Linked DNA regions of Homo sapiens: region 1 is linked to region 2. A link means that fine-mapping ties the variant in region 2 to the expression of a gene that starts in the linked region. Tissue or cell type: whole blood. Region 2 holds a variant in brackets; the other region holds the start of a gene. Each region is shown on its reference strand, or each on the opposite one. Region 1 holds the start of AGAP2 (ArfGAP with GTPase domain, ankyrin repeat and PH domain 2). Region 2 overlaps RREB1 (ras responsive element binding protein 1).

Evidence for each region.
Region 1: AGAP2 starts here. The variant in region 2 is fine-mapped to the expression of AGAP2 in whole blood (TOPMed, PIP above 0.99).

The regions. Positions count from the first base shown.
Region 1 is chr12:57,737,137-57,741,510 of GRCh38, forward strand. AGAP2 (ArfGAP with GTPase domain, ankyrin repeat and PH domain 2) reads right to left here and starts at 1,606. Exons shown (of 19, transcript NM_001122772.3): 1 at 1-1,606. The coding sequence starts at 1,110. RefSeq lists a silencer at 759-978 and an enhancer at 4,152-4,231.
Region 2 is chr6:7,229,265-7,233,638 of GRCh38, forward strand. It overlaps RREB1 (ras responsive element binding protein 1), which reads left to right. Exons shown (of 13, transcript NM_001003699.4): 10 at 1-2,643. Among named protein-coding and RNA genes, the nearest start is that of SSR1, 82 kb to the right of the region's middle. The variant G/A (reference allele first, on the strand shown) is at 2,346.

The DNA.
Region 1 (4,374 bases), not on the chromosome of region 2:
GCTGGGGGGTCCGGGAAGGGGCCCGGAGCCAGGAGGCCCTCCTGTGCTCTTGGTGAAGATGCCGCTGATAAACTTGAGCATCTTGCGGTCACGAGTGGATGCTCGGCCCCCCTCCCGGCCCCGTTTCAGCCCCGGAGCTGGAGGCTCCAGAGTGATTGGAGGTGCAGGCCCGGGGGGCTGCGCGGAAGCAGCGGTGACAGCAGTGGCTGGACTCGGAGTTGGTGGGAGGGTTAGCGGAGGAGGAGAGCCGGCAGGCGGTCCCGGATGCAAGTCACTGTTGTCCAAGGTCTTACTCTTGCCTTTCCGAGGGGACAACTTCCCTCGGGCTCCAGCCCCAGCCCCGACCCCACCAGAGGTCGAAGCTGTAGAGCCCCCTCCCCCGGCGGCGGCGGCGGTGGCGGCGGCAGAGACCGAAGCTCCAGTCCCGGCGCTGCTCTTTGACCCCTTGACCCTGGGCTTGCCCTCGCTTTCGGGCCATGACAGGCGGCTACCCGCGCCCTTGCCCCCGCCGGCTTTGGCTCCACTCGTGGTCACGGTCTTGCAAGGCTTGGGAGCCGGCGGAGGAGGCGCCACCTTGAGCCTCCGGCTGCCGGTGCCAGGGTGCGGAGAGGATGAGCCAGGGATGCCGCCGCCCGCCCGGCCTTCGGGCTCCGGGCCGCCCCAGCTCGGGCTGCTGAGCAGGGGGCGCCGGGAGGAGGTGGGGGCGCCCCCAGGCTTGGGGTCGGGGCTCAGTCCCCCGGAGAGCGGGGGTCCCGGAGGGACGGCCCAGAGGGAGAGGCGGCGGCCGGGAGCGGGGGAGACTGGGCGGGCCGGACTGGCCGGAGCCGGGGACAGGGCTGGGGGCTCCGCGCCCCCGGTGCCCGCGCTGCTCGTGCTGATCCACAGCGCATCCTGCCGGTGGAAGAGACGTTCGTGCCGCTTCTTGCCCGGCTCCTCCGCGCCTCGGGGGCTGCCAGGATCCCCAGTCTCGGAGCCTCTGGCACCGGCGGCGCCGGCCGCGGCCGCAGACGGAGAAGGCGGCGGCGGAGGCACCGACTCGAGCTTAACCAGGGTCAGCGAGATGAGGTAGGTCGTTGTCCGGCGCTGAAGCGCGCCCGCGCCCCGGCTCATGGGGCCCGGAGACCCCCGAGCTGGGGAGGGGAGGGGACTCCCCCGGACTGCCTCAGGGGGGCCCGGCCATGGGGCCGCCCTGCTCGCTGCCCCCAGCCCCCGGACCCCGCTGAGCCCCCGGCCCGGCTCCGCTGTCGCCGCCGCCTCCGCCGCCTCCGCTTGCGCCCCCCTCCCATCACATGGGGCGCCCCCTCCCCATGCTCCCCGCCCTGCGCCCCCACCCTCTTGGAGCCCCGGGACCTTGGTGCTGCTCCAGGGAGGCGCGCCGGACCGTCCACCCCGGCCTGGGTGGGGGCGCTGAGATGGGTGGGGGAGGGCGGGGAGGACAGTAGTGGGGGCAAATGGGGGAGAGAGAGGAAAAGGGAGCAGAAAAGGGGACCGGAGGCTAGGGGAAACGAACCTGTGCGGGGGAGGCAGGGGCGGGGAATTGGGACTCAAGGGACAGGGGCCGCGGATGCGGTCGGAAAGAGGGTCTAGAGGAGGGTGGGAAGCTAGTGGGGCTGGCCGTGCGGGGGATTCGCAGGGGCGCGGGGAGGATGCTGGGGATGGAGATACAGGAGGCGGCGGGGGAGGAAAGAGGGAACGGGAGGTGGGTGGGAACCCACGGGTCTGGGGTCTGGGAGGGGAGGGGCGTGAGATCCGGGCGAAGAGTCCGGGGGCCTCGCCTGGGCTCGGCTTGGTCCGGATGCGCGCTGTGTCCGGGCGCTCCCCTCACATTGAGGAGGAGGCGGCCCCCAGGCCCCCCCACCCTATCTCCCCCCCACCTTTTCTCCACCAGCACCGATGTCTGCGAGGGCGGTGCAAAATCCAGGGCTGGATTTCTCTCCCAAATCCTGGGCTGGATTTCCTGGGACTTGGACTCACCTCCTCCAACAACCTAGCCCCCTCCTCTCGCGCACCAAGGTTAGGAAGCGCGATTGTGAGGTATGGCATTTAGGGATAAGGGTGAAAATCGATCTATTGGGTGGACAGGGGCCGCGGTAAACAGAGCAAACCCAGGGTCACTGCCAATTCTGGGGAAGATGAAGTGGGAAAGTGGGGGCCCTGAAATCCCTTCCCCCAGGATCTCTTGTCTCCCCCAGGTACCTGGACGGTTCCCGTTCTCATGACCCAGCTCCCTTTCCCACTCACACCACCACATTTAATACTTTGACGGGGCCAAGACTTGAGCTCGACTGTCCCAAAGTGAACTTGGAAAATGTTCCCCAGGGATGGGGACAAACATGGAACTTAGCAGGGTAGGAGAGAAGGGAGAGATCTGAGTGCTGGAGGAGCCCAGGCCACAGGGTAAGTCAAAGGCTCCAGCTCTAGGAGGAGGGAGAAGGATGTGTCTTAGACTGATACCCCCCCATGCCAAAATGCATCCAGTCTCCATAGCAACCGTAGCTCCAAGAGTGCCTCAGAAACAGCGGGCAGAAGCAGAGAGGAATCCGTGTGTATGGTGGGTAGGGGACCAACCGCGGGATGCTGAATTAGTGGAGGCACTGCCCTGACACCTGGCTACCCACAGGTGGAGGATTTCACTCCCCAAGTATAAGGACCCTTCAGTTGAGGCAGTGAGAGCCGGCCTCTTCAGGGTTCCCTTTCAGTCTCCTGAGGTTTGCTGAGTGGGATTCTTTCAGAAGATTAAAGAGGAGGCAGGCAGAGTGAATGGAAACCGTCTGCTCCGTGTCCCCCACCCCTCTAGGGGTCTTGGAGTTCAAGGCTCTCTATCCTCCAGCCAGGTGAGAATCCTGAAGTGGTTAGGCCAAAGTGGAAAAGAGGTTGAGACCCCTTGGGGGTGGGGTAAGATGGGCGAAGGAAGGTCTCTCTGCAGCCTTGGAGACCCCTTCCCGGGACTTGGGGAGTCACAGCAGTCCCCTGATTTGGCGTCCCACCCTCCTGACGCAGCTGAGACTATAATAAGTGCTGCCGTGGGCGGCTCTTGGAGGCAGGAGCCCGCAGCGTGCTTGGCCTGGTGGGGGGCTGAGGGTGGGGGGGCTGAGCCAGGATGCCAGGAGCCCTTTGTTCTCCCAGAGGCCTGTATCCAATCCCTCCAATGTTCTGTCCTGGGGCTCAGCAGTTTCTCCCTCCCTCCCTACAGAACCAAGATGACACCATCCCCAGGACAGGAGACCCTTCAGTAGTGTTTTTTGATGGAGAGGGTGAAGGAGAATTGTTGGCTCTGGCTTAAACTTCCCTCCTTTGATGGCCTCGGTTTTCCTTTATGTTCAATGGGAACAGAATACTAATTCTTAGAGAAGGAGTAAAACAAATCACTTATGAGGAGTGAAGCCTTCTCAGGGATTTCCACCTCCACCCCTCCTCACCCTCCTCCCTCTCCAGAGCTAAGCACAGCTTTTCTGCCTGGCCTAAACCGCTCTTCTCCTTTATTATTATTATCATTATTATTTTTGAGAGGGGTGGGGCTTAGAGTTTCTCCCTAGGAGGCCCCATGGCCCACTCCCCCTTGGTCTGCCTTTCCAAACACTAAGGCTGTCAGGGGAAGCTTCAGGTGTAGTTCCTGGCAAAGGGTATGGGACAGGAGGTGAGAGGGGCACTAGCCTCCGAAGAACAATGGGAAGGGGATCATCAGACTGTCCCACTAGGCATCCAAAGCAAGCTGTTCCTTCCCCAAGTTATACTCTGGTGTACTAGCAGAGAGGTCTGGCAGGAGGTGTCCTTGAGGGAAAGAATGATCTCTTGACAACCACCCAGGTAGGCAGGTAACAATGGAGAAGACTGAAATGGCTGGAAGAGATCAGGATATGATGGAAGAAGTGTTTCCACCAGACACCTTTCATGAGCAAAGAAGGCTGCTTTTGTTAGCTCTTTGCTGCATCAGAGGTGAATGGAATGACAGCGAGCTGGAACAACCTCCAGTTCCACCAGTTCCTCAGTGGTAGGGCCTTGTGGATGGAGAGAAGCTGTTCCTGCCAGGGCTCCACCACAGGACTGAAGCCTGGGGTGGGCAGGAGGATGTGGCGGATGGTGTTGCCATGGCAGCATTTCCTCCCTGTGTTGTCATCACTTGCTCTAATGGCACTAAGGAGGTAGAGCGGAAGGTGTGTGGGGGGAAGACAGGAACAGGAGCAAGGGGAGGAGAGGGGACCAAGAAGAGTTCTGGGGACCTATCTGCACTTTGGCTCTGCAGAGCATAGTGTGTGAGAGTTAGTATGCGCTTGGGAGCCTGAGATTCTCTGCATGGTGTACTTCAATGTGCATGCGTGTGTGTGTGTGTGTATGTGTGTGCATGTGTTTCTCTCTACAGCTGGAGAACAAGAG
Region 2 (4,374 bases):
AGGCAATTCAGCTCCAGACACTCAAGTGTCAGCTACCTCAGGACCCCGGCTGCACCAACCTGCTGAGCCTGTCACCTTTCGAAGCTGCTTCCCTAGGCGGTTCTCTCACAGTTCTCCCCGCGACCAAGGACAGCATAAAGCACCTGTCCCTGCAGCCCTTCCAGAAGGGCTTCATCATCCAGCCTGACAGCAGCATTGTGGTCAAGCCCATCTCTGGCGAGTCGGCCATCGAGCTGGCAGACATCCAGCAAATTCTGAAGATGGCAGCCTCGGCTCCCCCTCAGATCAGTCTTCCGCCCTTCTCCAAGGCCCCTGCCGCCCCACTGCAGGCGATCTTCAAGCACATGCCCCCTCTGAAGCCAAAGCCCCTGGTCACACCACGGACGGTGGTGGCCACCTCCACGCCCCCGCCTCTCATCAACGCCCAGCAGGCTTCCCCGGGCTGTATCAGCCCCAGCCTGCCGCCACCGCCCCTGAAGCTCCTCAAAGGCTCAGTGGAGGCGGCCTCCAACGCCCACCTGCTGCAGTCCAAGTCCGGGACCCAGCCCCACGCGGCCACGCGGCTCTCCCTGCAGCAGCCGCGGGCGGAGCTGCCGGGCCAGCCTGAGATGAAGACGCAGCTGGAGCAGGACAGCATCATCGAGGCCCTGCTGCCGCTGAGCATGGAGGCCAAGATCAAGCAGGAGATCACAGAGGGGGAACTCAAGGCCTTCATGACAGCGCCCGGCGGCAAGAAGACGCCCGCCATGCGCAAGGTGCTCTACCCCTGCCGCTTCTGCAACCAGGTGTTTGCCTTCTCGGGGGTCTTGCGTGCCCACGTGCGCTCCCACCTGGGCATCTCGCCATACCAGTGCAACATCTGCGACTACATCGCCGCCGACAAGGCCGCGCTCATCCGCCACCTGCGCACGCACAGTGGGGAGCGGCCCTACATTTGCAAGATCTGCCACTACCCCTTCACTGTCAAAGCCAACTGCGAGCGGCACCTGCGCAAGAAGCACCTCAAGGCCACCCGCAAGGATATCGAGAAGAACATCGAGTATGTGAGTAGCAGCGCGGCCGAGCTGGTGGACGCCTTCTGCGCCCCGGACACCGTGTGCCGGCTGTGCGGCGAGGACCTCAAGCACTATCGTGCCCTGCGCATCCACATGCGCACGCACTGCGGCCGCGGCCTGGGCGGGGGCCACAAGGGCCGCAAGCCCTTCGAGTGCAAGGAGTGCAGCGCCGCGTTCGCGGCCAAGCGCAACTGCATCCACCACATCCTCAAGCAGCACCTGCACGTGCCCGAGCAGGACATCGAGAGCTACGTGCTGGCCGCCGACGGCCTGGGCCCCGCAGAGGCGCCGGCCGCTGAGGCGTCGGGGCGCGGGGAGGACAGTGGCTGCGCTGCCCTTGGTGACTGCAAGCCCCTCACTGCCTTCCTGGAACCCCAGAACGGCTTTCTTCACAGGGGCCCCACCCAGCCTCCACCTCCCCATGTCTCGATCAAGTTGGAGCCCGCCAGTAGCTTTGCGGTGGACTTCAATGAGCCCCTGGACTTCTCGCAGAAGGGCCTGGCCCTGGTCCAAGTGAAGCAGGAAAACATCTCCTTTCTGAGCCCTTCTTCCCTGGTCCCCTATGACTGCTCCATGGAGCCCATCGACCTGTCCATCCCCAAGAACTTCAGGAAAGGGGACAAGGATTTGGCCACTCCCAGCGAAGCCAAGAAGCCTGAGGAGGAGGCGGGGAGCAGCGAGCAGCCCTCTCCCTGCCCAGCACCCGGCCCTTCTCTTCCTGTAACTTTGGGGCCCAGCGGAATCCTGGAAAGCCCCATGGCCCCTGCTCCGGCGGCCACCCCGGAACCCCCAGCACAGCCCCTGCAGGGCCCTGTTCAGCTGGCGGTCCCAATCTACTCCTCAGCCCTGGTCAGCAGCCCTCCACTCGTGGGCAGCTCAGCCCTCCTGAGTGGCACAGCCTTGCTGCGTCCACTGCGGCCCAAGCCCCCGCTGCTTTTGCCAAAGCCCCCCGTGACAGAAGAGCTGCCCCCGCTGGCCTCCATTGCCCAGATCATCTCATCTGTATCCTCGGCCCCCACCCTGCTGAAAACCAAGGTGGCGGACCCAGGGCCCGCAAGCACTGGCAGTAACACCACGGCTTCAGACAGCTTAGGAGGTTCTGTCCCCAAAGCCGCCACCACCGCCACCCCCGCTGCCACCACCAGCCCAAAAGAGTCTAGTGAGCCTCCCGCTCCAGCCAGCAGCCCAGAGGCTGCCTCTCCCACCGAGCAGGGCCCAGCGGGCACGTCGAAGAAGAGGGGCCGGAAAAGGGGGATGAGGAGCCGACCCCGCGCCAACAGCGGCGGGGTG[G/A]ACCTGGACTCCAGCGGGGAGTTTGCCAGCATCGAGAAGATGCTGGCCACCACAGACACCAACAAGTTCAGTCCGTTTCTGCAGACAGCGGAGGACAACACTCAGGATGAGGTGGCCGGAGCCCCTGCCGACCACCATGGGCCCAGTGATGAAGAGCAGGGCAGTCCCCCAGAAGACAAGCTGCTGAGGGCCAAGCGGAACTCGTACACCAACTGCCTGCAGAAGATCACCTGTCCCCACTGTCCCCGGGTTTTCCCTTGGGCCAGCTCCCTACAGAGGCACATGCTCACACACACTGGTAAGAGGGCCACCGGGCTCCCAGGCAGTGAGTCCTACTTCCTGGTAGGGGGAGCCACGAGTGGGGGTCAAAAGCGAGACCCATCTCCCACAGTTCCAGTTATTCCTAGCTTGGCTTCTTCCCCGGTCTCCGAAGCCCCGAGCTTGTCTGGTGGTGCTGTATTTCCTATGTGCTCTCAGTACCCACATGGCCTTTGTGCAGGGGCCGAGCCCTCCAAGGGCAGCATTCTACTAAGTGTTCATCCGGGGCGTTTTGAGGTGAAAGTGGTCACAGGCCCTCAGATCACTCATGGCGTCGCCTCATCCCTTCCGGAGGTGGTAGCCAGATTATCTGCTGGGTTAAACAGGGAGGCGGCTCCACAGACGTGAGACTTTGTATTAAGGTATTGGGGCATAATGAGCTCGGTGCTTTGACATTCCATTCCAGTGTCCTCAATGCAGCTTTTTAAATTTTGACAATTTTGTGAAGTTTTTTTGGATGCCATGTCTTCTTAAAGAGAAATATGACAAATTGTGAGGTTGGCTGTTTTCTTTCAGTTCACTAAGGCAGTCACATCTTCCCCTGTTGATTGTGAAAATCAGCAATGAGTGGTGGTAGAATGTTTTAAAATTTCTGTTTATACTACAATTGTAAGCCTTTCTGAGAAACTTCTCTCAGAAGGGCCTGGCGCTGGTCCAGGTGAAGCAGGAAAACAACTCCTTCCTGAGCCCTTCTTCCTTAGCCCCCTACGACTGCTCCATGGAGCCCATCAACCTGTCCATCCCCAAGAACTCACACCCAAGTGTGAAAAAATTCTAAGTAACAAACTTAAATTGTCAAAGTGATACCCCAAAAGTATCTTCCTTTTTTCTTTTTCTTTTTTTTTTTTTTTTTTAAATAAAAGAGTCTCACTATATTGCTCTCAAACTTCTGGGCTCAAGCAGTTTTCTTGCCTCTTCCTCCCAAAGTGCTGGGATCACAGGCATGAGCCCCCACACCTGGCCCCAAAAGTATTTTTCTTTTTTTGAGACGGAGTCTCGCTCTGTTACCCAGGCTGGAGTGGAGTAGTATGATCTCAGCTCACTGCAACCTCTGCCTCCCTGGTTCAAGCAATTCTCCCTGCCTCAGCCTCCCAAGTAGCTGAGATTACAGGCATGCGCCACCATGCCCAGCTAATTTTTGTATTTTTAGTAGAGATGGGGTTTCACCATGTTGGCCAGACTGGTCTCAAACTCCTGACCTCAGGTGATCTGCCCACCTTGGCCTCTCAAAGTGCTGGGATTACAGGCGTGAGTCACTGCACCTGGCCTGCCCAAAAATATTTTTCAAATGTTAGTTTCTAGAAGCTGATTTTTAAAGAGAAGTTTAGGATAGGAATATACTTTAAATAATTTTGTTATCAGGTGCTTCTAGTATATAAATGGCCATACAACTCTCATCTGAATTATAATTTTCTAAATTTTCTCAGTGAACAGTCTCAGTATTCAGTGATTTGTGTTATTGAACTAAGCGCAAATTAGTGAGATCCTATCTTTTTGGAGTTTACAACCAAAATATTAATAAATAGATAGGGCCTAAAACCAAATGGTACTGGATTGGTGAATAAAATACAGAACACCAGTTAAACTTGAATTTCAGATAGACAACAAATAATTTTTAGTATAAGTATTTTTATGTAGTTCTTGGGATTTACTAAAAAATTATTTGTTTATCCAAAATTCAAATTTAGCTCTGGGCATCCTGGGTTTTTTT